6 separate regions of the Homo sapiens genome follow, and regions 1, 2, 3, 5 and 6 are each reported to be linked to region 4. Evidence: microRNA targets listed by miRTarBase, many of them from high-throughput screens and not tested one by one. Region 4 holds a microRNA gene; each other region holds the end of a gene's coding sequence.

The links. The annotated mature microRNA hsa-miR-590-3p reads UAAUUUUAUGUAUAAGCUAGU and lies in region 4 at 2,828-2,848, opposite strand. An mRNA with a match to its seed (bases 2 to 7 or 8) in the 3' UTR can be bound and repressed. Matches are read on the target gene's strand: a 7mer-m8 pairs with bases 2 to 8, a 7mer-A1 pairs with bases 2 to 7 and ends in A, and an 8mer does both.
Region 1: miRTarBase lists WTAP as a target of hsa-miR-590-3p. Seed matches in the 3' UTR shown: 7mer-A1 at 1,234-1,240.
Region 2: the mRNA of DHX57 is a reported target of hsa-miR-590-3p. Seed matches in the 3' UTR shown: 7mer-A1 at 1,888-1,894, 7mer-A1 at 1,906-1,912 and 7mer-m8 at 1,911-1,917.
Region 3: miRTarBase lists DIPK2B as a target of hsa-miR-590-3p. Seed matches in the 3' UTR shown: 7mer-A1 at 2,905-2,911 and 7mer-m8 at 4,158-4,164.
Region 5: miRTarBase lists PHC3 as a target of hsa-miR-590-3p. Seed matches in the 3' UTR shown: 8mer at 724-731, 7mer-A1 at 3,473-3,479 and 8mer at 3,996-4,003.
Region 6: the mRNA of FARSB is a reported target of hsa-miR-590-3p. Seed matches in the 3' UTR shown: 7mer-A1 at 2,608-2,614, 7mer-m8 at 2,027-2,033, 7mer-m8 at 1,987-1,993, 7mer-A1 at 1,180-1,186 and 7mer-A1 at 864-870.

Annotation. Positions count from the first base shown.
Region 1 is chr6:159,754,437-159,759,464 of GRCh38, forward strand. WTAP (WT1 associated protein) reads left to right here. Exons shown (of 8, transcript NM_001270531.2): 8 at 592-1,883. The coding sequence ends at 1,175. It also overlaps a transcript of SOD2 not described here. Among named protein-coding and RNA genes, the nearest start is that of ACAT2, 5.1 kb to the right of the region's middle.
Region 2 is chr2:38,794,700-38,799,727 of GRCh38, reverse strand. DHX57 (DExH-box helicase 57) reads left to right here. Exons shown (of 24, transcript NM_198963.3): 24 at 1,286-1,999. The coding sequence ends at 1,429. Among named protein-coding and RNA genes, the nearest start is that of GEMIN6, 19 kb to the right of the region's middle.
Region 3 is chrX:45,147,929-45,152,956 of GRCh38, reverse strand. It overlaps DIPK2B (divergent protein kinase domain 2B), which reads left to right. Exons shown (of 5, transcript NM_176819.4): 5 at 965-4,584. The coding sequence ends at 1,305. Among named protein-coding and RNA genes, the nearest start is that of DIPK2B, 50 kb to the left of the region's middle.
Region 4 is chr7:74,189,073-74,194,100 of GRCh38, reverse strand. MIR590 (microRNA 590) reads right to left here and starts at 2,903; the gene lies at 2,807-2,903. EIF4H (eukaryotic translation initiation factor 4H) reads right to left here. Exons shown (of 7, transcript NM_022170.2): 3 at 4,364-4,428; 4 at 4,183-4,279; 5 at 3,795-3,854.
Region 5 is chr3:170,092,877-170,097,755 of GRCh38, reverse strand. PHC3 (polyhomeotic homolog 3) reads left to right here. Exons shown (of 15, transcript NM_024947.4): 15 at 372-4,879. The coding sequence ends at 526. Among named protein-coding and RNA genes, the nearest start is that of GPR160, 57 kb to the right of the region's middle.
Region 6 is chr2:222,568,080-222,573,107 of GRCh38, forward strand. It overlaps FARSB (phenylalanyl-tRNA synthetase subunit beta), which reads right to left. Exons shown (of 17, transcript NM_005687.5): 17 at 1-3,943. The coding sequence ends at 3,792. Among named protein-coding and RNA genes, the nearest start is that of FARSB, 85 kb to the right of the region's middle.

The sequences.
Region 1 (5,028 bases), not on the chromosome of region 4:
TAGGTAAACGTGAGTCAAACTTTGGGGCTGTAATCAGGCATATGGCAAGATGGATCAAAACAATTTTAACTTGGTTGCTTAATACAGTTGCCCTCGGTATCCATGGTGGATTGGTGTCAGGACCTCCCACAGTAAGCCCCTCATATAAAATGATGTCATATTTACATATAAACCTATGTACATCTTCCCCTTTGAGCCATCTCTAGATTAACAGTACCTAATACAATATAAATGCTAGGAAAATAGTTATTTTACTGTATTGTTTGGGGGATAATGACAAGAAAAAAAATCTGTACATGTTCAGTATAGACCCAGTTTTTTCTTCCTTGAATATTTTCCTTCTACAGTTGCTTGAATTCATTGTTGCATGTGGAGGGCCAACTGTATATTATTTTAAGTATCTGACTTCCCCCAAAACAAACTCAGTCATATTTTAAGATTCCAAGCAAAATTTTTAAATGTAGTGTGATTTTAGAATTGTATTTGTTTACTTGAGCGTTTATTGACTCCCTTGCTTTGTGGCAGGCACTAAAGAAACATTTTTCAATGTTATAAACGATATTAAAGTTGGTCTGACTCTCCTTTGCACAGAACTGAATGACTTCATCATCCAGCTTGATGAAGAAGTAGAGGGTATGCAGAGTACCATTCTAGTTCTGCAGCAGCAGCTGAAGGAGACACGCCAGCAGTTGGCTCAGTACCAGCAGCAGCAGTCTCAGGCCTCTGCCCCAAGTACCAGCAGGACTACAGCTTCTGAACCTGTAGAACAGTCAGAGGCCACAAGTAAAGACTGCAGTCGTCTGACAAACGGACCAAGTAATGGTAGCTCCTCCCGCCAGAGGACGTCTGGGTCTGGATTTCACAGGGAGGGCAACACAACCGAAGATGACTTTCCTTCTTCTCCAGGGAATGGTAATAAGTCCTCCAACAGCTCAGAGGAGAGAACTGGCAGAGGAGGTAGTGGTTACGTAAATCAACTCAGTGCGGGGTATGAAAGTGTAGACTCTCCCACGGGCAGTGAAAACTCTCTCACACACCAATCAAATGACACAGACTCCAGTCATGACCCTCAAGAGGAGAAAGCAGTGAGTGGGAAAGGTAATCGAACTGTGGGTTCCCGCCACGTTCAGAATGGCTTGGACTCAAGTGTAAATGTACAGGGTTCAGTTTTGTAATATTTTTTCAGCAAATTTTTATACAGTGTCATTTAATTTGGGAGAGGATACTGTCCAGAAAATTAATGCATACTTTTGTCACAATTTGCCTTTTTGTGGGTGTACGTTTTGGTTTTTTTTTGTTGTTTTTTTTCTTTGTTTTTTTTTTCTTTTCTTTTTTTTTTTTTTTTTTTTTTTTTGCTTCAATACTTCTGCCGCTTTGGAAATTGTAACAGTTAATTACTTTGAATGTTGCTAAAAGGACATTTTGTGTAGGGTCAAGTTATTTTTATATGAGTTAATGTGAAATTGTAAATGGAAATTTTTCCTTAAAATACAACACAATGATGTCTGTATAAATCTGTCTGTTTAGAATCTGTGCTGTGTAAGGGCATTCGTACTCATGCTGTTACTGTACTTATGCACCATTCAGACTTGTTAGAGTAGATGTGGGTTTATGACTGCCAAGTTTGCCCAGTACAGTAGTTTTTTATCACTAAAAGTTGGACTCATTGATGGAGTCCTGTAGTAGTTTCAGTGTTAGATACAGTTTTTTCCACCATACATCTGTGCATTTTCTCTTTAGGTGACTGTTTAAGAAATTTGTGTGCATAGTTACTCAGTTTTTATGAACTGTTGTATCCTGTTAATGCATATTGCTCTGTGACTCCAGTATATCTTACCTGTACTGACCAAACCTAAATAAAGATTTTTATTGTAACTCCTTAATTAGCTTTTTTGTTTTGTTTTGGGTGTATGTTTAGCATTTGTCATTTTCATTGAGTCATTGAATTTCTACTCATTATCCTTCAAGTACCACAACAGTCAAACTTAAGACCAAGCATCGATTACGATTTTGCACACAATTTTTAATTTATGCCTTATTTTGCAAAACGGAGCTGGAGTTTAGGGCTACACTTAAAATTTTTTCTTGACTTATAATTGTTACAAAATATTTTAAAATACAGAAAAGTATAAAGAAAATAGTCATCTATTTCTTAGGCTTTTTTTTTTTTTTTTTTTTTAATTGAGACAGGGTCTTGCTTTGTCACTTAGGCTCAAGTGCAGTGGTGCAGTCATGGCTCACTGCAGCCTCAAAGTCCTCGACTCAAGTGATCCTCCCACTTCAGGCTTCCGAGTACCTGAGACTATAGGCATATACTACCACACCCAGCTACATTTATTTTAATTTTAGTAGAGACAAGGCCTCGCTATGTTGCACAGGCTGGCCTCAAACTCCTGGCCCCAAGGGATCCTTCTGCCTTGGCTTCCCAACGTGTTGGGATTGCAGGAGTGAGCTACAGCTCCTGGCCCTTTTTGAGTTTTAATTGAAAAGCAGCGTTGGTTTTTTGTGACCTGATTTCAAGTAGAGTATCTTTGTAGTTAGTGATGTTTGTTTTAAAACGCTGGCCAGCACTACTGATTTTTACTAACAACATATCTGGTAATATTATATGAGTAAGGGGTGTTAGAATGTAGGTAGGAGAAAATGTTTTTAAGGTGGAAGAATGTCAAAATTTGCTCCATTTTCTCAGAGGTAATTAAGTATAAAAGTATGATATTGAATGGCCTTCAAATGTGTAGCTTTCATATATGGTTGAAATGAAATTCCATTTCTGTTAAAAGCAAAGTATTGTTTTAGACATAACTTGTAATACAATCAAGGAACCTTGGGAGTGGAGTTATAATACTCGAAAACTGAGGTACAACTTATTTGAAAGTAATTGCTGCTTTTGCTTGTTTAGCTGATACAGGTATATCCGGTCTTCAGCAGTATGTTAAATACTGCACTGTCTCTTGATTAACCTTTTCTTTTTTTTCTTTTTCTCTTTTTTTTTTTTGCCGAGAGTCTCGCTCTGCCACCCAGGCTGGAGTGCAGTGGCACCATCGTGGCTCACTGCAACCTCCACCTCCCGGATTCAAGTAATTCTCCTGCCTCAGACTCCTGAGTAGCTGGGATTACAGGCGTGCGCCACCATGCCCGGCTTATTTTTGTATTTTTAGAAGAGATGAGGTTTCACTGTGTTGGCCAGGCTGGTCTCGAACTCCTGACCTTGTGATCCACCCACCTCGGCCTCCCAAAGTGCTGGGATTACAGGTGTGAGCCACCGCGCCCAACCTTGATTAACCTTTTCTACAGTCTGCTCAAGTGAGTAAAAAATCCTATACGATTTTTAATTTGCATGTGATTAAACATTTTGGTGTTTGATATATCAGATACTGTGTTTGGCTTTTGTTATGTACATCCTTCAACTTGACCAATTTAAACAAAAATGTAATTTCTCTGTCCTGTTGGTGTAATGTAATCAAGAGTTTGTGATAGGAAATTAATTTTTCAACCAGTGATACAATTTTATGACTGAATTTAATATGGACCTGTTAATGTGACATTTTCATGTTTCTGTTGAGTCTGCCTTGATGAATAACTCAGAGCACTTATTCTGTGGTACACAGAGTCAGTATTTCTCATTTCTGGAATTGGATGCTTTATTTTCTGGTATGCCTGTGATAAGAGAGGTGATAGAGTGGCTTCTGCATCTAATTGGTTTGAATCCTGGTATTACACTTAACTGATTTGGGCAAATGTATCCTCGAGGCTCGATATTTTGTTTTGTTTTTCTCCCCTGTAAGAGCACTCACTGCTGTCTTAGCTTGGGCTGCTGTGAAAAAAAAAAAAAACCACAGACTGGGTGGCTTTACACGCGCATTCCTCACTGTTTTTGGAGGCTGGGAAGTCTAAAGATCACAGTGCCCCCTGATTGGTGCCCCAGTTTGGTTCCTGGTAGTCCTCATACAGAGAGCGCAATAGATGTCAGTTTCCTTGGCTCCTCAGGTGTATTGGATACAACTGACTACTCCAGTTTTTGAGACACTTTTGCAAAACAATGTAAAGCCATTCCTTCTGACAACTTACTTTCTCAGATGTTCCCTCTTTCATGAGTAGTTATGCCCTGTACTCAAATCATTGCCTGCTGCTCTACGTCACTGTCTTGGGAGTTCACCTATCCCTGTGGTTATAGTGAACACTTTCATAATCCCAGGTAATGTCATTAACTGATCTGGACCCATCATGGGGTGGCTGTGCTGAGGGAGTGTTGAGCTAGCCCCTAGTGGTAAGGAGTACACTGCTGACCTTCATCCTATGGCAATTCCACTTTGGTGATTCACTGTTCCCCTCATGGAGACCAAGGAGGAATTTGCTGCATGGTAGGTTGGTGAATCCAGCCTGTAGCAAAGACCTGGCTTGGACTCCTGCAACTCTTTATGAAACTTAACCAAGAATGATTGCATCTTCCAGCGGGGGAAGATGCTGAGAAGGCCCCTTCAGGATAAACTGGCTCCATAGCACTGCTGTAATGATGGCTCCTCATGAGTAAGCACTTGGAGATTTTTGTGGCTTCCTGCCCACTCACCCTGCTCACCAGTCCAGGTAGTTTATGATTTGAGATCTAGATGTAATTTTATTTTATTTCTTTTTTTTTTTTTGAGATGGAGTTTCGCTCTTGTTGCCCAGGCTGGAGTACAATGGTGCAATCTCGGCCCACCACAACCTCCGCCTCCCAGGTTCAAGCAATTCTCCTGCCTCAGCCTCCCTAGTAGCTGGGATTTACAGGCATGTGGCACCACGCCCAGCTAATTTTGTATTTTAGTAGAGACAGAGTTTCTGCATGTTGGTCAGGCAGGTCTTGAACTCCCGACCTCAGGTGATCTGCCCGCCTCGGCCTCCCAAAGTGCTGGGATTACAGGCATGAGCCACCGCGGCCGGCCAAGACATAATTTTAAAAATTATCTTCCAGCTGGCCGGGCGCGGTGGCTCACGCCTGTAATCCCAGCACTTTGGGAGGCCGAGGTGGGCGGATCACAAGGTCAGGAG
Region 2 (5,028 bases), not on the chromosome of region 4:
CCCAGGCTGGAGTGCAATGGCGCGATCTCGGCTCACCACAACCTCTGCCTCCTGGGTTCAAGCAATTCTCCTGCCTCAGCCTCCCGAGTAGCTGGGATTACAGGCATGTGCCACCATGCCTGGCTAATTTTGTATTTTTAGTAGAGATGGGGTTTCTCCATGTTGGTCAAGCTGGTCTCGAACTTCCACCTCAGGTGATCCGCCCACCTCAGTCTCCCAAAGTGCTGGAATTACAAGCGTGAGCCACCCGGCCCAGCCTATCTACCACCCTTTTTTTTTTTTTTTTTTTTGAGACAACAAGGTCTGCAGTGGAGTGATCGGTGATCAGTAAATTTTCTTTTCCTTTTTTTTTCTTTTTTTTGAAACGGAGTTTCGCTCTTGTTGCCCAGGCTAGAGTGCAATGGCGCAATCTTGGCTCACCGCAACCTCCACCTCCCAGGTTCAAGCGATTCTCCTGCCTTAGCCTCCCAAGTAGCTGGAATTATAGGCATGCACCACCATCCCAGCTAATTTTGTACTTTTAGTACTAAGAGACGGGGTTTCTCCACATTGGTCAGGCTGGTCTCGAACCCCTGACCTCAGGTGATCTGCCCATCTCGGCCTCCCAAAGTGCTGGGATTACAGGCGTGAGCCACCGGGCCCGGCCCTCTCTACCACTTTTAATTCCCCATTTTCCTGCTTCTCCTCGTGGAATAAATCATAAAAATTGACCAAACTTTAATATGGAGAACACTATATAAAAGCCATACTTCCAGACTGAATCTTTTCTTTTTTGGGGAGCAGGGGGGACAGAGTCTCGCTATGTCACCCAGGCTGGAGTGCAATGGCGCGATCTCAGCTCACTGCAACCTCCACCTCCTGGGTTCAAGCCATTCTCCTGCCTCAGCCTCTGAGTAGCTGGGATTACAGGCGCATGCCACCACAACTCGCTAATTTTTGTATTTCTAGTAGAGACAGGATTTCACCATGTTGGCCAGCCTGGTCTTGAACTCCTGATCTCATGATCCGCCCGCCTTGGCCTCCCAAAGTGCTGGGATTACAGGCGTGAGCCACTGCGCCTGGCCCGAATCTTTTCTTTAGATGAGATGTGATAGAGGCACTTTTTTACAATGGACCTCATTTAGTCTATTACAAAATGAAAATGTATTTAGGGTTTTTGCTCCTAATGGAGTTAAAATTAGTACCAGAAATCTAAATAATGGTAATCATAACTTGGGTATTTCCCTCCAATAACCTATCCTGCCTGTTCCTCCAAGCACTGCTTATATTGTAGCTTTCATTTTAGGTGGCTGAACTGGTAAAGGAGCTTCGTTGCGAACTTGATCAGCTTCTCCAGGATAAAATTAAAAACCCAAGCATTGATCTGTGTACGTGTCCTCGAGGATCCCGGATCATCAGCACAATTGTGAAACTTGTCACCACACAATAAAAAGCAGTCTTAGAGAGTGCTTGCTACTCACCTGCTTCTAGCTCACCTGGGAAATAACAGCAGAACCTCTACCTCGAACTAAAGACCTATTGGGGCTGGCCCTGGTGGAGGAGCCCAGGGCATGAAGCCCAAGGCAGCTGAGGCAGTGTATATACCCTTAGGGCCATTTCTAACAAAGCCTTGGCCACTCCCAGCACAATTTGGAGTGTCAAGGGTGAGAGCCTAAAACCCAGCTTGCCTGTCTTTGTCTCTGTGATTGTTCTGGAGTGAATTAAGTTCACCTGATAACTCAAAAGTGAATGTATAATACAATTCTGTTTTAATCTGTGTATTCTTTTTCTCCTACTTTTTACTGGGGTGAGAGGGGCATGAAGAGAAATACGCCTTTTTTTTTTTTCTTTTCCTGTCGCCAAGGCTCGACTGAGAGAAGTCAGAACAGAGAAGGGGAAAAAAAACCCAAAATTATGTGAACAAGCAAAATTAAAATTTCATTTTAGGCTATTGGCTACTGAGTAAACTTGACTTGTGAGGGGTTTTTATTTTTACTCATTAAAAGTCAACTTAAAAAAATTGAATGAGTTCTCTTTTGGTATTAAAGTGCAAGCTGGTCTTATCGATAACACTCCTATTCTTAAAAGCAGAACAATCTAGATGTCGTCATAGTTCTACATTTAGGAATCTTTACTCTGTCTTATCAACTCACCCAGACACGAATCACCGAAGGAGAATTTTAATAGCATTCCTGGGGCAGAGTTGGCATGGATGAGGTCAAAAAGGTTACCATCGGATTTACAGCCACCACAATGCTTTCCATGAAATTGCTTATTTTCAACCACCTGTTAGGTTAATGGGGCGCTAGCATTTTGGAAAAACATCAGGGGATTTACATTTTCCCTGGACATCTATCAGTATGGCGAGGAAGGATCCCAAATTGCTGAGTAGAAAAAATATTTGTATGTTTGTTTAGACCTCAGGGCCGGACGCGGTGGCTCATGCCTGTAATCCTAGCACTTTAGGAGGCCGAGGCAGGCCAATCACATGAGGTCAGAAGTTCAAGACCAGCTTGGGCAACTTGGTGAAACCCCATCTCAATTAAAAATACAAAAATTAGCCAGGCATGGTGACAGGTGCCCATAGTCCCAGCTACTCGGGAGGCTGAGGCGGGAGAATCACTTGAACATGGGAGGTGGGGTTTGGAGTGAGCCAAGATTGCACCATTGCACTCCAGCCTGGGTGTCAGAGTGAGACACTGTCTCAAAAATAAAAATTAAAAAATGGACCTCAGGACAGGGTCACTACAGGTTCCATAGTATGGATAGAATTCAAACTAAATCAAAACCATCTCAGTGAAATCAGTGAAAGGTATTCACTTTTCAAGGTATTATTTTAGTTAAGTTTTCAGGAAGTCTGCTTGGCTGTCCAAAATGATTATTATCAAGTATATTTAAGCTTTGGTGCACTTGAAGAGCTTAGACTCTAAGCAGTATTTTTAAAAGGCATCGATTCATGTCATTGCTTTAAATAAAAAACATACATATGCAAGCACCCACAGAATCCAAATTCTGACTTGCTGTTGAAACAAGGCTCCTATTACAGAACTGATTAGGCTGAGACCTTTAGAAGAAATTAAGAAAACTGCATTAAGCCTCTAAAAAAGTTTTGTTTTCCTTTTTTTTTTTTTTTTTTTGACGGAGTTTCACTCTTATCACCCCGGCTGGAGTGCAATGGTGGGTTCTCGGCTCACTGCAACCTCCGCCTCCTGAGTTCAAGCGATTCTCCTGCCTCAGCCTCCCAAGTAGCCAGGACTACAGGCATGTACCACCACACCCGGCTAATTCTGTATTTTTTTAGTGGAGATGGGGTTTCACCATGTTGGCCAGGCTGGTCTCGAACTACTGACCTCACGTGATCCACCCACCTCGATCTCCCAAAGTGCTGGGATTACAGGCGCGAGCCACCACAATCAGCCTAAAAAAGTTTTTAAAAATCAGTTTTCACGGCTGGGCGCGGTGGCTACGCCTGTAATCCCAACCCTTTGGGAGATCGAGGCGAGTGGATCACCTGAGGTTGGGAGTTTGAGACCAGCCTGACCAACGTGGAGAAACCGTGTCTATACTAAAAATACAAAATTAGCCAGGCGTGGTGGTGCATACCTATAATCCCAGCTACTCGGGAGGCTGAGACAGGAGAATTGCTTGAACCTGGGAGGCGGAGGTTCTGGTGAGCCAAGATCGCACCATTGCACTCCAGCCTGGGCAACAAGAGCGAAACTCCATCTCAAAAAACAAAAACAAAAAACCCATCAGTTTTCACTCTTGGTGCTACAGTGGTGCTCATGCCACCCTAGCTAGAGCCATCTGCCCAAGTGGGCCTGCAGCATTTAACACAAGTTTGCCCCAGAGCACTCAGCTGGGAGATAATTAACAGCAAAACTTTCCACCCAGTGAAACTGATTCCTTCGGGAAAGCCAGCTCTTGGATGGTCACTTCCAACCACATATAGATGCATGAATACTGTCATGATATAGATATGCCAGAATGTGATAAAGGTTGGGAAGCCTTGACATAACGCATTGAGTAAGAATATCCTCGCCCCAAAGACTAAACTTCTTAAGCTCATTATTAAAATAATGAAATAAGAAATGAAATAGAATTACTTATTTATGATGAAAGATCAGAATGCAGGCCGGGCATGGTGGCTCACGCCTGTAATCCCAGCACGTTGGGAGGCTGAGGTGGGTGGACCACTTGAGGTCAGGAGTTCGAGACCAGCCTGACCAACATGGTGAAACCCCATCTCTACTAAAACCACAAAATTAGCTGGGCATGGTAGCACATGCTGTGATCCCAACTATTTGGAAGGCTGAGGCAGGAGAATCACTTGAACCCAGGAGGCGGAGTTTGCAGTGAGCCAAGATGGCACCATTGCATTCCATCCTGGGCAATAAGAGTGAAACTCTGTCTTAAAAAAAAGAAAGAAAGAAAGATCAGAATGCAGTATAGTGTTTCAAGGATTTTTTTTTTTTCTTGAGACGGAGTCTCACTGTGTCACCCAGGCTGACACAATCTCGGCTCACTGCAACATCCGCCCCCGGGTTCAAGCAATTCTCTTGCCTCAGCCTCCTGAGTATCTGGGATTACACGCACCTGCCTCCATGCCTGGTTAATTTTTTTGTCTTTTTAGTAGAGACAGGGTTTCACCATCTTGGTCAGGCTGGTCTTGAACTCCTGACCTTGTGATCCACCTGCCTCGGCCTCCCAAAGTGCAGATTCCTTCTGCTCTTTGATAAACAAATGATTAAAACTTGTAAGATTTTAAAGCCCCTTAAGTATAAGTGATTGGCTACAAATCTCATCTAAGACCAATGTCTTTGATAAATAATTTTAGAGGTGACAGCTTAGAAACAGCAGAAAGTCTCTCCATGTTAATGATTCATCACGGTTAACTGTTCACCCAGTCATTCCATCGCTTTACATTTATGGGACCAAAAGACATGGAAGAAGCTTATCACTCTGGAACAGTCTGAAACTATTGCTCTGACAACAAACTGAATGAGCTGTTTCCACGTTGTTTCCATTTAGGGCACCTCTGTACTGTGA
Region 3 (5,028 bases), not on the chromosome of region 4:
TGTTTTTCATTTTTATTTTTGTTTTTGAGACAGAGTCTCACTCTGTCGCCCAGGCTGGAGTGCAGTGGTACATTCTTGGCTCACTGCAACCTCTGCCTCCCGGGTTCAAGCGATTCTCCTGCCTCAGCCCCCTGAGTAGCTGGAATTACAGACGACTGTCACCACACCCAGCTAATTTTTGTATTTTTAGTAGAGACGGGGTTTCGCCATGTTGGCCAGGCTGGTCTCGAACTCCTGACCTCAGGTGATCCACCCATCTCAGCCTCCCAAAGGGCTGGGATTACAGGTGTGAGCTGCCATGTCCGGCCCTCACTTTGCATTTTAAAGGCGCAAATGAAACCAGTCCCAATAATTTCCTGAGTTCACTAATTTAGTAATAATGAGAGTCTAACAATATGAATGTGATCTCTACAATTATCAGCCTAACTTCTGGTAGGGGTAAGTGGGTTTTCCATGCCCAGGCCTCACTCTATTGTAGCAGAGTGGATTCTTTCCACGTGGTTCTCAAAAGGAGCCACTGTGTCCCTGAGTCCTAAATCTCCTGGTGACAGGGAAATGCTAGGAGACTATACTAGTTCACCCAGTAATTTTTTTTTTTTGAGATGGCTTTTCGCTCTGTCACCCAGGCTGGAGTGCAGTGGTGCAATCTTGGCTCCCTGCAACCTCCGCCTCCCAGGTTCAAGCGATTCTCCAGCCTCAGCCTCCTGAGTAGCTGGGACTACAGATGCATGCCACCACACCCAGCTAATTTTTGTATTTTTAGTAGAGACGGGGTTTCACCATATTGGCCAGGCTGGCCTCGGACTCCTGACCTCAAGTGATCTGCCCGCCTCAGCCTCCCAAAGTGCTGGGATTACAGGCATGAGCCACCGCGCCCGGCCCCACCCAGGAATTCTAATTAGTGGTGCCCTCCCTCAAGGAGCACTGGTGGCAGGGTGTGTAATACTTCCCATTTCTTTTCTAGGCAGCCAAGAAGCCAACAGGGCAGGAGAGAATAAAGACATTTTTAGCTGCCTGGTTTCCGGCTGCCAGGCCCAGCTGCCCTCCTGCGAAAGCATCTCTGAGAAGCAGAGCCTGGTGCTGGTGTGTCAGAAGTTGCTGCCTCGACTTCTCCAGGGGAGGTTCCCCTCCCCAGTGCAAGACGACATAGACTCCATCCTTGTTCAGTGTGGGGACAGCATCCGCCCAGACCCAGAAGTCCTTGGGGCCGCCAGCCAGCTGAAAGACATCTTGAGGCCCCTGAGAACGTGTGACTCCAGATTTGCCTATCGTTACCCAGATTGCAAATATAACGATAAGTTCTGAAGGGCTGGTGTCTAGCTGGCCTTGGGGACAACACGCTTGGCTCTCCATTCTCCCAGTCGGGTTGCTGCAAGGTAGAAAGAAGCAGCTCTTTTTTAAAGATGAGAAGAAAGGCACACTCATTTCTTAGGGACTGAGAGGGGAGTTGTGAGATACCACGTGGCTGTCTCTGCTGGCTGGGACGTCCTGGCAAAGCCCGCGGTGGGCATCAGAAGACCTGGGTGTGGACGCTCACTCAATGTCTTTGAGCCTCAGTTTCCTCTGTTCTCCACCAGACTCTCCTGAGGGTGAAAGAAGACACAGATGGAGCCACCACTGAGCATATATCCCAAGCATGGGTCTTGGGACACATGCTCACCACCTCCATCCCAGGTGGTTACAAAGTGTGTTCTGGAAAAGCACAGAGGCGGGGAGCATGAGAAAGAGCTGCTCAGGTCAGGAGGCTGGAGTGGAGGGAAGGCAGGGGAAGGACAGGCTCCCTGCCACTACCACTTTAGACTCGGACAAGAGGGGCCCCCTTCCTGCTCCCTATGGCCCTGCGTCACTCCCCACACCATCGCGGGATGAGGAGACTGCAGGCCAAGGGGACATGCCTGCCACCACCTAGAGCCTGGTACCTGAGGCTCCATACACCTGCGCATGGGGCTTCTCGTGGTGTGGGAAGAAGCCAGGGGTAAGAAGATAAAGGGGGGCCGGCGGGGGACCAATGTGTTAGCCCAAGTCTTCCAAGAATATGTGTCAAGATAGAGTGAATGGAACAAAGATTTGTTAGGGGAAATGATTGTGTGTAAGGAAAGAAGGAGGGAGCCGGAGAAGATTGGGAGGACCAGTAAGTCGAGCTGCAAGCTGAGCCCCGGTGAAGGAGAGAATGTCTGGCAGGAGCTTGCTAAGCTCAAAATCAAAGAAAGGTTCAGCAAGGCTGTCAGGGTGTCCTCAAGACAAAGGCAGCCATCAGAAGAGCCCCGTGTCTCCCACAAATAGACCCCGTTAGCATCCCTGCTGCACTCAGTGGTTGGCGGAAACAGCAAAGATAGATTTCAGAGCACAGCAGCAGGGGTCCCTGGTCAGCCCCGCTCCCTAGAGCAGGAGATCTTGAGTGGGAGAACATTCTTGTTGTAGCCACAGCTGAGGCCCTGGACCAGCTCTCTCCACACCGCATGCTCCGAGTTGGGACTCTAAGGAGTCTAGGAATTTTCATTCAAACTTGGCCTTACAGGTCACTCATCAGAAAAATACTTTTTTCAAGGTCAACCAATAGAACATACTTTATTCAACAGTTTGTTAGTTTGCTTTTTAAATATTTAGCCACATGGTATGTAGGCTTCCATGTACACTCTTGCCCTGGCCCCTGAAACATAAGCAGGGGGCTCTTCTGTACATTTGCCCAGCTTCCCTGCCAGCCTTTAACCCCAGGAACCTCTCAGTCTACCTCCTCTTTTCTGCCTCTGAATCCCTACCTTTAAAGTCAGAACAGGCCAGGCCCGGTGGCTCACGCCTGTAATCCCAGCACTTTGGGAGGCTGAGGTGGGTGGATCACTTGACATCAGTAGTTCAAGACCAGCCTGGCCAACATGGTGAAACCCCATCCTTACTAAAAATACAAAAATTAGCCAGGTGTGGTGGCGGGCACCTGTAATCCCAGCTACTCAGGAGGCTGAGGCAGGAGAATCACTTGAACCCAGGAGGCAGAGTTTGCAGTCAGCCAAGATCACGCCACTGTACTCCAGCCTGGATGACACAGCGAGACTCCGTCTCAAAATAAATAAATAAAAATAAAGTCAGAACACCTGGCTTAATAGGCCTCACTGTGCAGATGAGGAAACTGAGGCCCAGGGAGGAAGAGCGATCTGTGGAGATATTTCTAGAACCCCTGCAAGCTGAGCCCCAGTGAAGGAGAGAAGGTCCAGTAGGAGCTTGCTAAGCTCAAAATCGAAGAAAGGTTCAGCAAGACTGTCAGGGTGACCTCAAAGCAATGGCAGCCATCAGAGGAGCCCCATTGCTATTAGGAGGCTCCTATTGCCCTCCCCTTCAGCCTCTGACTTTCACCTGTGCTACCCAATTCTGGTTCCTTCACTCCCATTCAAAAATGGACCCCAGAAAAGCCTTATTTTGTGGAGTACCTAGTTCCCTTTTGGGTTTGTCTCTTGACTGCTACGGGCATTGCCCCAGGGCAACCATGACAGTGAAGATGACTGGCCAAGCTTGTGGACTGGCCAGCAAGCTTGGGCTGCCTGAGACGCTTTGAAATGGCTGCCTTCTGAGTTGGTCTTGAGGGTGAAGACTGACCACCCTTCTCACCTGCACAGTCACAGTCCCTCTCCTGCTGGCCTGACTGCAGCTGTCCTCCCAGCTGGCCACCTGACCAGAGACCAGGAGAGAGGCCACAGCCTCCAGACCCTCCAGAGTCCCACGGAGGAAGAAGGCTTACCAGAGAGACCCTCTGATGCATGAGCCAGGCCCCAGCCCTTCTCCCTGCATCCAGGTGTGTTTCCACCGCAAAATGCCTCCACACAATGAGCGACTTTGGCCCTGCGTGGGTCAGCATGTGGTCTGAGGTAACCCTCAAATGCCTCCACCACACATCTGTCCACCTGCACGGGTTCAAGGTAAGCACTTGCCCCCTTCTCTCCTCCAGACCAGTCGCCTGAAATTCTGAGCAACATTCCTTCAAGACTATCATGTAACCCTTGGTGATGCTGAGTCCAGACAGGAAATGCAGACTTGGGACCCACCTGTATCAGCAGAAAGAGGCCTTGTGCCCCGTTTGTCCGAGTCCCAGAACGGAGCAAATGAGAAAACCGGCGAGCTGTCCCCCGAGGAGCTGTAGGGAGATTGGTTTTTAGTATAAATTACAATAAAATTTTGTGTATGTGTACAGCTGTGTTCACATCCACAGTGTAAGCTGTGATATGGTTTGGATGTTTGTCCCCTCCAAATCTCATGTTGAAATGTGATCCCCAGCATTGGAGGTGGGGCCTGATGGGAGGTGATTGGGTGATGGGGGAAGTTGCCTCATGAATGACTTGGTGCCCTCCTGGAAGTGATGAGTGAGTTCTCGCTGAGCTCACTCAAGATGTGGTTGTTTAAAAGAGTGTGGCACGTCCCTCCCCCAACTCTCCCTCTCACTCCCGCTCTCACCATGTGACACACCTGCTCCCCCTTCGCCTTCCACCATGATTGGAAGCTTCCTGAAGCCCTTACCAGAAGCAGATGCCAGCCCCACACTTCCTGTACCACCTGCAGAACCATAAACCAAAATAAAGCTCTTTTCTTTATCAATTACCCAGCCTCAAGTATTTCTTTATAATAATACAAAATGGGCTAATACAAGCTGAGTGCTAAGGAGCAGGGCAGATGTCAGGCAGGCCCTACATATGCTTAGGAGTGGCCTAGAAATAGTTCCCCAGCTAGTGGCTTTTCCTAGGTTCAGGAGATCACAGAGTCCTTTTCTCATACACCTTCACGACAGAGCAGATGTTCTTGTCAACATGCCTGAAGACCACAGGCCCCACTCAGCTGCCTTCAGGGAACATTTTCCTGCCTCCCGCCAGCCACCTGCTAACCCTCCCCCACCCACCCTGTGGTGGACACAGAGCTGAGCCACCCAGCTCTCCCTTCAAGAAACAATGCTCTTCCCAGCATGGCATGGTTGGCACACAGCATTAAGCCATCAGGTCCTTCGGGTTCTGCCTCAGCCACCTTCACTCGAGGTCACACCCTTCCTAG
Region 4 (5,028 bases):
CGTTCTTTCCCCATTCATTTGTGTGCCTGCTAAGTGGGCTCTTGGCAGAAGTAAACTGCATCTCATTTAGAAATGCTGAATTCCCACTGGTGTGTAGGAGGAAAGAGTATTTTCTCAATGGTCTTAAGGGGCCTTCAGGCTTGTACTTCAGTGAAAGCTAAACTTTAACTGTATAACCTACTGATGTTAAAATTTGGTAAAAAGACTGGTTCACGCCTGTAATCCCAGCACTTTGGGAGGCTGAGGTGGGAGGTGAGTATAGGAGTTCAGGACCAGACTGGGCAACACAGTGAGACTCACTCTCTACAAAAAACACAAAAATTAGCTGGGCATGGTGGCGCACGCCTGGGGTTCCAGCTACTCATGAGGCTGAGGCAGGATAATCGCTCGAACCTGGAAGGTAGAGGGTGCAGTGAGCCAAGATCGTGCCATTACACTTCAGCCTGGGTGATGAAGTGAGACTCTGTCTCAAGGAAAAAAAAAAAAAACTGGCGAAAAGAAGTTAAACCATAATTAAACAAATGAGCTTGCTGCTGTTGGTTGCGCACTCAGGGGGTGCCACTGCTACTCTCTGCGAGAGTGGTGCCAAGGCTCCAAGCTTTCAGGGAGCTTGTCTTTGAGAAGAACCCCCAGAGCCCGCAGTATGCACTATACAGTCATCCTCATTATCCACAGATCCCATATTTGCAAATCCACCCAGTCGCTAAAATTCATGTGTAATCCCAAGCTAGATACCAGCAGCATTTCTCCAGTCAGTCCTGGACCTGCACAGATGCGACGATCCCAGCTGAGGCAGAAAACGATAATGCTCTGCCTGTTTCAGTTATTAGCTGTCAAGTCTTTTCACGATGAGTGTCGGGTGTTTTGCCCTTTGGGCTTTTTCTGGTGACATCGCTGTCTGAAGTGGCCCCAGGTGCAGTGTGAAGTGCTGTCTGCTGTTCTTAAGTGCAGGCTGGCTGTCAGGTGTCTTACAGACAAAACCGGTGTGGGATGAGCTTTCTAACAGGCTGAAATGATGGCACCACAGACTACTTACTACAGCTGGCCCTGAGTTCAATGTTAACACTATTAAATGAATCAACACTAACATTAAATGAGGCGTCTTTAAAATCAAGGTCACATAGGCTGGGTGTGGTGGCTCACGCCTGTAATCCCAGCACTCTGGGAGGCAGAGGTGGGCAGATCACCTGAGGCTGGGAGTTCGAGACCAGCCTGACCAACACGGAGAGACCCCGTCTCTACTAAAAATATAAAAATTAGCTGGGTGTGGTGGTGTGCGCCTGTAATCCCAGCTACTTGGGAGGCTGAGGCAGGAGAATCGCTTGAACCCTGGAGGCGGAGATTGCAGTGAACCGAAATCATGCCACTGCACTCCAGCCTGGGCAACAGAGTGAGCCTCTGTCTCAAAAAAAAAAAAAAGAAAAAAAAAAAAGTCACATAAAGCAATGTTAGGTATGATCAGCTGACGAAAATGTTGTGATCTGTAGCACACAGGAGCAGCACCGCACGGGCTCATTCAGTGTTCTAGCAACTCCACAGAACCACCTCCAATGATAAGCGCTGACTGCATCACCTGTGGTGGGGGCCGATTTCTATTCTTTAAAGGTGGCAAGGGTTTTGGAAACCAAGGGATCTCACACCCAGTTCAGAGACTGAGTTAAATAATAAATTTTAACAAACCAAGTAATGAAAGCAAGTCTGAACAGATTTAGACCAATAAGAGCACTGCTTTAGGGGAAATACACTGGGAGGCATACAGTCGAGTATAAGGTCCTTTACAAAGTATTTTACCCACATTACACAGTTCAGTGAACAAGCCTAGTTAGTATTAAAACATTTAACTTCACGTTTCCCCCAAACTAAACTGTGAAGTGTACCTTTCCACGTGAGTACAAAGTAAATTTACACCCTTTACTATGAGATTAAATGATTTCGACCACCAATGTCTAGCGTGAAACAAATAGCTCACACCACGCTGGTGAAGCAGATGAACAAGGATCTCTCATCAAATCTGTTGGTGGGGGCCGGGCGCGGTGGCTCATGCCTGTAATCCCAGCACTTTGGGAGGCCGAGGCAGGTGGATCACGAGGTCAGGAGATCGAGACCATCCTGGCTAACATGATGAAACCCCGTCTCTGCTAAAAATACAAAAAATTAGCCGGGCGTGGTGGTGGGTGCCTGTAGTCCCAGCTACTTGGGAGGCTGAGGCAGGAGAATGGCATGAACCCAGGAGGCAGAGCTTGCAGTGAGCCGAGATCGCACCACTGCACTCCAGCCTGGGCAACAGAGCAAGACTCCGTCTCAAAAAAAACAACAACAAAAAATCTGTTGGTGGGTTTCTAGGAAGCAAACTATTCATGAGAATCTTCAGAGTTTTCTTTACAAAGCTTAGTTTAACACTGGCTATTTCTGATGATGAAATGTTTTTGCTTTCTTGGTACTTTTCTGTTGCTCTATTTTGTTTTTTACATGAGCAGGTATCATTAAAAAAAATAGCACCATCCTATTAAAAAGTAAAAAAGATCTACTCTCGCAAATAACGTATAAAGTATCAAATTAGCCATTACTCCATCGAGTGAGCCCACATAGGGTTTGAGATGTCACCAAAACACTGCAGTTCCCACCAGAACTGGTGGCGGCCAGGCCATGGCCGTGTTCACTGTGTCTCTGCTTGAGCGCCAGTGGCCAAGCTAAGCCAAGGGTAGAAAGACGTTAGTATGTGGGCAACTTCTATAACACCTGCGAATACCAAACTGGCAGGGGAAAGGCCGTTCCCTGAGCTGCTGGTTGGCTCTAAGAAGACAGCTGCTGCATGTTTCAATCAGAGACTAGCTTATACATAAAATTACAGATTGACTTCACCATACTGCACTTTTATGAATAAGCTCATTTCTGACTGGCTACAGGACTTTTAAGAACTATATTATTCAACAGGTAGTCGTCACCTGTTCAGCCAAAGCTGAGTTTTTAAAAATCTCAGACTCACAAGACAGCGTGCACCAGTCCCTCCCATACTCACCCACTACTTTACACCGGTTTTGTTTTGATGGGGGGAGGGTGCTGACGTTCTATACAGCACAGCATTGACAGCACATCCCAAGTTTGCGGGAAAGAAAACAAATTTGTTTTTCTCTTCCTACCTTTCTGGGTTACAACTGAAGTTTTTATCATGTGCATATATAAAAAATTATACTTTTGTAATTTAAAAACAGAAAGTAAAGATGATAAAAATGCTTAAAATCACCCTGCAGGGCAGAGGCCTGGCGTGTGGACTGATGCTTTGTGCTATACCACCAGCTGCTCTGCCTGGGTTGGCTAAGAAAGAGAACGGCGAAGTGCATCAGGTCCACCATCAAGGGACTGGACCTCCCCACAATCCTCCAAGAAAAAAAAGGGCCATCAGGACTACCTTTCACCATGTAAGAACCCAAACCTCTATCCTATGTTTTCCAGAAGGAACAGTACTTCTCTTGGTGCCATACACAAAACCACAGAGGAGTTTCCCTGGGCTAGAGTCTGAGAAAGACTGCTGAGCGAGCTCAAGGACCCAGGCCCGTACACATCCAAGGAGCTGCAGGCTAACAAAGGTGACCACACAAGGTGCATGGGGCTCAAGTCCTGCCCCCACAGGCTCTAACAGAGGCTTACTTGCATGCCTGGGCACCCTGCAGGAGAGTTGTATTTGTTAAAGGAACTAAATAAGTAGTCCGGCCAGGCGGGCTACTCGTAAGAAACAGAGAACAGCAGCAAGGCTCCTAGGAAAAATTAAGTGGTGATACTTTAAATACTGATACCAGAATTGAAGTCATCCCGGGAATCCCATCCACCTCTAGATTCTCGAGAGCTACCCATTCCTGAGGATACACAAAAAAGATAAAGTTGAGGTCGTGTCATTACCTTGCTGCGCAAACATGGAAAAATTCATTTGGAAGACATACAACTCAAGTGATGGAAGGTTCAATGAAATCATTTTAAGAGCTTTTGCTTCCAACAGAAAACAAAAAACGCCAGGCTTGCAGAAGCATCAGCCATTCTTTCTAGGATTTTACGCAAACTTTTAAGAGCTCACGAGAACCTATCACACCTATGAGATAATCGAGTTCTACTAGGAACGTTCACGAGTTGGAATTGGTAGGCATACTGCAAATCTTTATGATGTTCAGCTTTAGAAGAACCAATCACCTCTGTCATCTGGTCCACCTTTTCTGAATCCAAAGCCACCTTTATCTTGTTTTCTGCCTTCTGCAATGTCCACACGAAGTGACCGATCGCCCAACAGCTAATGATAAAGGGAAAATAGTGTAAGTATTGGCAAAGAAAACAATCTCAACTGCTATGACAGAGAAAACCCGAGGATACTTACTGCACCATCGTATGTCAAGGCTTCCTTAAGGGAATCCACTTCATCGAATTCTACATAGCAGAATCCTGGAAAAGAAAAGAAGACCCCGATTTCCTCAAGTAATTCTGGGTTAAAGATGTGGGAAGATCCTATTCATACTACTTCTCCACGTCACAACTACCATTCTGTTGTCTAGATGATGGCAGACTAGGAGAGCCTTTCAATAGATAGAACCCTGACTGGCATTCCTCCCTCTCAATTCTATTTTATCAGTCAGAAAATGCTAACTGAACATGCACTGAAATAGCAGCTGCGTTTCTAGAAAGCTTTCTTCTTGAATGTTTTAACCATAATATTCAAACCTTTCTCAGGCCATCTGCAGAGCTCTTCTGACTTCTGAATGACTATTTAATCTAAGTGAGGATTAGATTTCGTAGATTTCAAACTTGGTACCTAAAATGCTCTGAAGAAAGAGGCTTAAAGTGCCGATTTAACTTACTACTCAGGTAACTGACATAAAATTTGCTTCACAAAGCTGAAAATATATCCTTGGCAATCAGGGCATTCTTCTCTGAATGTTAATTAAAAGACAGGCAGCCTGGGTCCAAGTACCTGTTACTGACAACCTGTGTCCCTGATGCCAGGGGTCTGACATTGCCCCTTCCTTGCTGTCTGGAGTCTAAATC
Region 5 (4,879 bases), not on the chromosome of region 4:
AGAGATAAGTGCATGAGGTATAACTAGTTAACCCAAACCTGTTATGTGGCATGCTTTGAGGTAACACCATAGTCCTTTTTGTGAAGGAAGTATTATATCTAGACTTCCCTCTTATGAATTATTTCTATAACATTATTTTAGAGCAAGAATTCCAAGCAAATTGCTTTACCTGGATTTTGAATTCTTATTTTCAGAATGCAAATACTCTATTCTTCAAGAGTGAACTCAAGACTACCATAAATAAATTTCATTTGTTTCTCAGCCTGTATTTCAGATTCTCAGACCCAGTGAGAGCATAACTGTGACTGTTAGGAGTAATGTCTAATTGTTGTATATTTAATTCTAACTTCTGTCCTCTGGTCAAATTCCAGGCTGCCAGGATATCGCAGATGAATTCAGAGCACAGGAGATTGATGGACAGGCCCTTCTCTTGCTGAAAGAAGACCATCTCATGAGTGCAATGAATATCAAGCTAGGCCCAGCCCTGAAGATCTGTGCACGCATCAACTCTCTGAAGGAATCTTAACAGGAACATGAAGCCTTGATAAAACAGCAGTTTTACTTTTCTCACAAAAACTTGTAAGGTAAAGGCCTAACTTGGTCTAGAATATGACACTTATTGTGGTGGATAGCCAAGCACATTGGGATCTCCACATCAAATACTGACATTTCTTCTACAGGTATAATAATTCATCATGCATTTTCATAATTAATAAACATTGGTAAAATTAATTTTACAGGTTACATGAAACATTGAAAGACTTGTTACAGAGGGCCATGATATTTTTCAAAGAAATGTGTTATACTAGATAATTTTTTTAAAGGTGATGTTTATCATTAATATAAAGAATCCTTTTAAAAGTAATTTAATGATTTACATTTCTCCTCTTTTGATTCAATTTTCTTATACATTTTTTCTACCCTATTAGTTTTCTAAAGGTTGTCATGAGAGGTATATTATGGAATAATTTAGTAGTCCAGTGACAGAATCGTATGAAATCAGTGTACATTTTAAAAAACATGTCTTTTAGACATATGCTTTATCTATAAAAAAGGAATTGTGTTCTAGTATGAACAATACTGATCTGGAAGTGAGAAGAGTTAGTTTCTATTCCAAACTTGACCAAGAATTTGGTTTGACTGAGAACGTTTTCCTCTCAGTTTTTGTACATTTATTTAGAGCAGTGGTTCTCAGTGGAGGTCAGTTTTGATCGCCAGGGGACATCTGGCAATGTTGAGACATTTTGGTTGTCACAGCTTGGGGGTGGGTTCAGGGGAGGGTTGCTACTGGTGTCTAGTAGTTAGAAGCCAGAGATGTTTCTAAACATCTTATAATGCACAGGACAGCACCCCTCCACTGTAAAGAATTATTGGTTCAAAAATATCGGTACTGCCAAGGTTGAGAAACTCTGATATAGAAGGAGTGATAAATATTGTTTTCACCCAAAGGAATACTTTTAAAGGATGAAGCTTACTAAACATATATGATGGAAGTATTATTCAGATAACATTAATATTCTGCTGAATAATTTTTTCTAGTTTAATCATACTAGAAAAAGAAAAAAAATCTACAAATTGTCCTATAAAATAAGGACAAACATGCAAATAATTTAACTCTCAGAAAGTACTAATTCATTCTGATTATCTTTCATACCTCTGTGCTCCTCTGCACTGACGAAGACATAATATGATTATACCTATGAACTAGTGCACAGCCTTTTCTGGCAAGAAAATAGTTTGTAGCAGATACGTGGTTGCTCTTTGGATTTTTTTCTATTGTTGAACATGCTGGGACTAGCTAGAATGCACATTCCTACTTCCTTTACCAAACGTTTGCATGCTTCCTGCAAAGCACTTACCAAGTGATTTCTCTTGAACCATCGGATATAATTTTGTATGTACATGTTTGAGGAAAAAAATGTAAAGCAAAACCTTTTACTGAACAGTGTTCTATAGAATTATGACACTAAAACAAAATTGTTTGTGGAAGCCCTGAAAGCTTTATAGTCCTGGACATCAAAAATTTTATTTGAGATGATGAATGTTTTGTTTTCATCTTTTCTTATATTACCACAATTGAGATATTTTAGTAATTGAAGGAACATACACAGATATTTGGCAGAAGTCGAGTAAGGAGGGGAAAAAAAGAGTCCGTGAGTTTCAGTCATTTTCACTGCTCTTTTCAAAAAGATTGTGTTGAGCTGGTAGAAGACTAAAGATGTCACTGAAGACATCACAGATACTATATTTATCTTTTGGCTTTGTGTACATTAGAGAATGTTGATTATTTTTATACAAAAATACAGCGGGTAATTTTTTTAATCTTTAGATGCCTCTTGTTTGAATGTATGCTTTGTGGAATTCTTTGTGTAGTAATGTTTTAAAAAAAGATGTTTACTGATAGTTACATGTAGGATTAGAATATGTAATATAATATAAGGCTCATGTTCCAGACCTACGATAGCTTGTAGTCTATGTTACGTATTTCTTTATATCACATTTTTAATCATTGGATTAAAGTATCAAGGAAAGCTAGGTACTCTATAATGAGTTTTCATTTATTAGCAGTTAATCATCATGACAGAATTGTCATATGCTTGACTTTTCCCTCTTCTTGGAATTTCAGAACACAAATACAGGCTAAGCATTAGTAAGAGATGGCCCACAGTATGAGAGAGAGAGGTGCAACGGAAAATCTCGCCTGGAATTAAAACTTTTCATAGATTATCCACGGTTAATACAAAATTTATTATATGGGGATAGACTGCTCCAGCAATAATGATTACATCCTATAACTGTATTACCTATGGCCTTTAAGGTATCAATTTTGAACTGTGTTGTAGGCTCTCCTTTTATTTGTTCTCTTTCCTAATAGCAGCCATTCTGTACTTATTGAAAGCCCCTGTGCCTACTGCTGTCTTAAGTATTCAGGAGGGGCTTACAAGAGGGTTTTCTATTGGAGAATACCGTATAATCTTAAATCTAGTCCAGATCTCTGTTGTCCCCACTCAAAACATACACAAAATATGCACTTGCTTTTTTCAAGTGAGTTTTTATTTAAAAATGGCTTGTTTGCTATCACATTGGTGCAGCTGTTTCTTTCAAGATGAGTTAATCATCTTAATTTCAAAGCTTCAGCTATATATAATGGATATATAGACAACACTGAGCATCCACCTCTCTCCTGAGCTTTAAAGCAGAGTTTCAGTATGATATAGGTGGGGAGAGTAAATTGTTTTCATATCCTTTCATACTACTACTAATAGTTTTAGGATTTTGACTGGGGAGAGATAATGACAAACAGAAAGGGAACATGGAGGTTCTTCCTACTTTTGCTACCTAAGTTTGCATTTTCTGACTTCCTTGCAGTGTTGCACTCTTTGTCCCATTGGGATAAAAAGCATAAGTTTGAAATTTTGCTTTAAGCCTTGTGTTCCTGGGGAAGTTAAACAACTAAGAGAGCTGATTTGTAAAAATTATTTTTTATATGACATTAATATTCATCAAGCCTTGTGTAGGCATGTGTAAGACACAGCTATGCAGCTTTGAGTAGTCAATATAGTATGAGATAGAGTGTTGTCCCAAATCCTCCTGTCACTTTTTAAGTAGCATATTATTTCCCTGATGGTCCTGTTACTTTGCTGTTGAATGCTCTAAACAGAACTTTTTAAAAGGTGTGTTTTAAGAGCAGTCACCTAGGAGTAGACAAGGTGGAATGGGAGGAGAGAAATGGTAATGCAAAAGCTTGAGCATGGGAAGAGTCAGAGGAGGAGGCCATCATCCTTGTTAGCTTAGCCTACTTCAACACTGAGCACATTTCTGCACTTTTGAAGTGAAATTCATGTTTTACTTAGAAGAAATAATTTTCTTTCATTAGGGATCCCAGTTGATTTTTGTTTCCTGGTGTATCAAAATACTTAGAACTATGAAACAAGTATTATTGTGATCATGCCTTTGAATAATTTTTGACGTAGCTTATCTTCATGTATCAAGTATAAAATTATAATGAGACATCTATTCACAAATACAAGTCTTAGATTGAATTGAAATGTGTTATAGTGCCCTGTCTCCCACTGACTTGTTCAGTTAAATGTCTTAAAGTACATTATGTACATCTTCAGGCTTTTGGTACCACAATGGCACAAGTATGGTAGGGAGGCAATATAGTCTTAGGCTATATGCCTATATTAAGTGTGTATAAACAATTTTTGAAAGAATACACTATTATAGATGTATGTGAGTGATGCTGACCTGACAGCCATATCCAGTGGATGAAACTGACTGGACACACTGTTAAAATGTTTTAAAGATGTATTTTCAGCCAGAACAGCCTGGTTATAGTTTGTGGTTTTCACCTTGGTGGATTGCAGGAACACATGCAGCCTACTGGCATTGAGCATTAGCTAATGGCATGAAAGGGCCTCATCTCACTACCTCTCTAAGGCCTCTAGCTCCAAGAAAACCATGAAAACTTCTTTCTTGGAGAGATCTTTGTCTCAGAATCCTTAGAGAGGATTTCGTATGGGGGCTAACTTTAGGAAGGGAGGCAGCTGGGGCAGGACTTTCTGATACCTGACAGTCATGTTCCAGAGCAACCTTTGGGCAGTGGAAACTGGCGCATCTATGCAAAATGATTGCTCAATCTCTATCTTGTGTACTACATATGTAACTAGCTGGGCCCTAAGGAAGGTTTTCTAGGGGGAAGGATAGGGAAGTAGAGGAGGAGACAAGTAGGAGGAACAAAGCATTCTAGACCCAAGAGGATAGAAGATATTTAGGATAGATATGGCTTTCATCCATAGTTCAAAATAATGCGTTTTGTTAGATGCCAGTTATAGCAGTAAATAGGTTATAGTTTTTATATGTCAAGATTTACCTG
Region 6 (5,028 bases), not on the chromosome of region 4:
AAATGTGAGCAGGTGTGTGTGGCTGACTGTACAAATCAAGGAAAATGTCCAAACTAAGGAACAATACAGGCTAAATTGTTAACAGCAGTTAGTTACTTCAGGGAATCAGGAGGAAGAAAGGTAGATTAACTCAGTAAGGCCACAGTTTGCAGAGTTTTTTTAAAGTATTGGACTTAACAATTTTTAACTTTTTGTCTCCCATTATTTTTATATTTTTAAAAAGTGTAGAAAGTCCCATTATTTACTTTCGCATAAATAAGTAAATAATGCAAATCAGTGAGTGGTCTGTGGACTCCAAGTCACTCTTTTATAGTGTCTCAAACTCATTTATTGGCTATGTGACTTCTGAGTAAGTTATTGATCTCTCTGAAACTCAACTGTTTTCACCCTACACATCAGGGAGAATTCCTACTCTCATACCGTTATTAAACCAAAAAAATTAAAATGTGAAAAAAGATCAATTCAAAAATAATTTAAAAACAGAAGAGCAGGCTGGGCGCCTGTAATCCCAGCACTTTGGGAGGCAGAGGTGGACAGATCGCCTGAGGTCAGAAGTTCGAGACCAGCCTAGCTAACGTGGTGAAACCCCGTCTCTACTAAAAATACAAAAATTATCCAGGCATGGTGGCACACACCTGTAGTCCCAGCTACTCGGGAAGCTGAGGCAGGAGAATTGCTTGAACCCAGGAGGTGGAGGTTGCAGTGAGCCAAGATTGTGCCATTGCACTCCAGCCTGGGTGACAGAGCGAGACTCCGTCTAAAAAAACAAAAAACAAACAAAACTAGAAGAGCACTGCAGGACTGTGAGGCTGTAGTGGTAGAATTTAAGTTTTTTCTAAGCTAGAACAAAAATCAATTCCATTTAATTTTCACTTTAATACTAGAGCTCCCAGTTTTTACTAAGAAGGTGTGCATCTTCTGTAATAAAGGCTTTTGGCAGTACTCACAGACTGCCCTGGCTCCAGTTCAAATGCTTCACCAGGGACAAGTGTAAGATGATCTGGCTGCAGAGCCTCGACTCATGAGCTGGATTCGCTTCTTCCAATGCAGCCGACACTGTTTTTCTGCCTACCATTTCCTGCTTCCGAGGGCAGAAACATCTACATGATGCATGGAGTTGATCTTTCCCCTTTCATGCTGGGATATACAATTAGGCATTAGTGGGTTTTTCATTACAAGTAATTTTGGCCACCCCCAAAAATATCCAGGTGGGTAGCTGCTGACAGAACAAATGGTTCCACCTACTTCAACAAGGGCTATCATATGATGATCCATAAGCCATGATTTTAACTAGAGCGAACCTGAAACTAAGGGAGAATATATCATTAATAGCTGTGGACCAGTGAGCCACCTTGAGCACAACTGCCAATTCTACAGTTCAGGCTATTTCTCTAGGCATTTATCAACTGGTGTTATGTAGTTAAAATCAGTAAAATACTACATGTTACATTACATTCTTTTTCTCCCAGCTTTACAAAGGTATAACCTACACCTGAAGTACACCTACCACCTCAATTAAGATAAAATTTCCATCACCCCAAAAAGTTTTCTCTTAACCCACTGCAGTCAGTTCTCTTTCCTGAGGTCCTGCCGACCACCTGCTTTTGACTTTTTTAGACTCTCAGGTAAATAGAATTAAATAGAGTCTTTTGTGTCTCTTGCTTTCACTTAGCATACTGTTTTGAAATTCATTCATGTTGTTTTGAGGATCAGTAGTTCATTCCTTCTTATTGCTGAGAAGTATTTCATAGTATGGATATACTGCAATTTGTAACTACTATAAGTAACACTGTGAACACTTGCATAAAAATCTTTGGCCATATGGGTAAACCTAGGAATAGAATGGCTAGATGGTAGGTGTATGTTTCAAGAGACTGCCAAGCTGTTTTCTAAAGTCACAATGTAACATTTTACATTGTGACTCACCAGCAGTGCATGAAAGTTCCACTTGCTCCAGTCTCAGCAGTATTTGATTTATGAATCTTAAATTTTAGCCATTTTAATGGGTATGCAGTTTGTCATTGTGAATTTTAGTTGCATTTCCCTGATGACTAACGATGTTGAGGATCTTTTCAAGTGCTCATTCATATGTCATCTTTTGGGAAATGTTTGCTCAACTCTTGCACATTTTTAAAAAACAGTTGTTTTATTTTTACTATTAAGTTTTATTATTAAGTTTTAAGAAATCTTTATGCATGCTGGATACAAGTCCTTTTGGCATGCATTATTTTTAGAGGGCATATTTCATTTTTAAAATGTTGTAAGGATCTGCTTATAACAGAGCTGTGAAGGGTCAGCTGGAAGTGTGTGTGTTCACAAATCTTACAGAGTTAGACACTGCTGCCCCAATTCAAGGTTGTAATATGGTCAGGTTTTCTCCTAGTAGTAGACTCAGCAAAAGATCCATAAACATAATTCTTATTTCACTATCTTTGTTAGCTACTTCTTCTTTTTTTTTTTTGTAGACAGAATCTCACTCTGTCACCCAGGCTGGAGGGCAGTGGCACAATCTGGGATCACTGCAACGTCCACCTCCTGGTTCAAGAGATTTTCCTGACTCAGCCTCCCAGGTAGCTGGGACTGCAGGCCCACACCACCATGCCTGGCTAATTTTTATATTTTTAGTGGAGATGGCATTTCACCATGTTGGTCAGGCTGATCTCGAACTATTGGCCTCAAGTGATCTGCCCACCTCAGCCTCCCAAAGTGCTAGGATTACAGGCATGAGCCACAGCGCACCCAGCCTTTGTTAGCTATTTCTACTGGGACTTTAAAGTATTATATTTTATCATATTTCTTATTACTTCAATAGTACCTGGGAACTTGTCTCAAACATGAGACCCAGCTTTTTTCCAGAGATGGTACCTACTGGAGAATTCTAGATTGAAGTAAGAAAGGAAATTAGGATATAAAACAAGGAGGATTGGCTGAAGCTTAGCTTCAGAAAAAGAGAGGTCTAATATCTCCCTGGGACAATAGAGAAACTAGTAGCTCAATTAAGTATTTAAAACCATGATTTTATAACTGACTGATTACAGTAACATGTATGGCCTATGGCAAAAATAAGCTTCTCATTGTTTCCTAATGTTCATACTGCATTGATATCAATACTTGTCCATTTTAACTCTTACAGCAGAACAGATCTTTGTTGCATGTACTCTATCTTAGAGTATCACAGATAGAGTAAAAAATACCTATGCACCCTCACATATTTTGAATCCTTGTATTACAGATTTTTCTTTCACTTTAAACTGACCTCAGAAGCTATAATTGTTGGACCATAATTGATTCTTAAACGTTTTCTAAAAATATTGTTATTTTAGTGTTTCTCAATGATGAATACATGTCAAATGTAGAAAATCAAAGCTAAACCCCTCAGTTATCTCGAACTCATGCAACATGAATTCTCATCGATTATCTTGTTTTATCAATAAGGAAAGAAATGGGATCTTGTTATGCAGGAGTAATCCGTTCCAATGTGATGTTCTGATGTCTGAGGAGCACGTCTGCCTTTCAGAACAGATCCTGCACTCTGCTAGTGCATTTCTCCAGCACTCCACGGGGCTTTTACCCAACAATGCAGCTTCACACACAGACACCACACTGGTATATGGCACAAGCTGGCCTAATATGCAGGGAAAGGATGGTCTCTACCCACACAGCCAGACAGTGCTTTCTACTTTATTAAACATCAAAGCCCAAATAGATGTTCCCTGTGGAGGAGGACTTAAGGACACTAGGGGAGGAGAAAGGGACACCTGGGAAGAGAATCACACCACAGAGACCAATCTTCACAAAAAGGGTCCAACATTGATTTCTAGGGAGGAGCAGGGCATGGTCAGCTCAAATTTGGTGATAACGTCAGGATGAAGGACCCCAAGCTTCCCGACGCTTTGACCCCTGGCAAAGATCTCTGCACATCGCCCGGGGAAGAAAGCAGGCCCTGAAAAAGAGAAAGTAAGAGAAAAATCAATGTTTCTTCTGGCAAAACATCAATAGACATTTAACACTAAAAGCCCACTAGTCTACTTTAAAAATAACTATTCTTTAAATCACTGGCTATGAAAAGAGAACGCTTCCTCATACTTTCTAGTATTTAAAAGAAGGATTTGCTATCAAGAAACTCTTGCAAGGAAAAAATCCGGGGCAAATATGAAAATAAGGGCCCTGTATTTTTGGTAACAGGGACCCGAGCAGGAAGGATGAAATCATGGAGGCTGCTGAAGGTCCACAGTCAGAAGTCCTAGGGGAACTCTGCCTGCACTTGGAACTGGTCCTAAAAAGGCCAAAAGGAAAAAAATGAAACATAAAACTGATGAACTTAATGGGAAGAACCTGTTTTCAAACAGGTTTTTCCATAGCAACGCTCACTGGATAAGACATCGACACTGAATTCATTTGCTCTGTACAACTCTTCCTCACTCTTTCTCACCTTATTACATAAAGAAACTGGAGCCGCCGTGTCATAGGCCGGCTACTGGGGGAACCACACCTCTGATGACAGGCCATGCTACCAGAAGGCAACCCACATTCCCATCTGAAAAGAGCTTTCTAAGCAGTTCTGAAGCATCTACTGTAAAACCACAGCAAAGGCCAGCCTAACACAAGTCTGGGTTGATGCCTCATTTACTTCAAGACAGGCAGAAAGTTCTCTTTATCTGGGTGCCAATGCACTGATACAGCTTACCAAGGCAGTAACAGTTCTTGAGATTTACAGAGCTAAAAATGAACATATGGGCCCACTCCATATTCATGAAATTACCAGTGCCACAGTAAATTATCAGTGTTCTGTACTCTTCTGAAGTTTACAAATATGCTGACTCACTGCTCTCACCACCAACTTGAAAAGGGATCAGGCCTGCAGCTCCTGACAGATTCAACAGAAACATTTACTGGCATAAACTATAAACACCCATGCAGAGCTGGGCCACAGTGTCCAGCCTGCCACTTCAGAGTGAGTGCATTATTGATGAAAGAGTAAACTGCTGAGTCTCTACTAATGGTTCCAAGGTCAGCATGCTTAGGAAA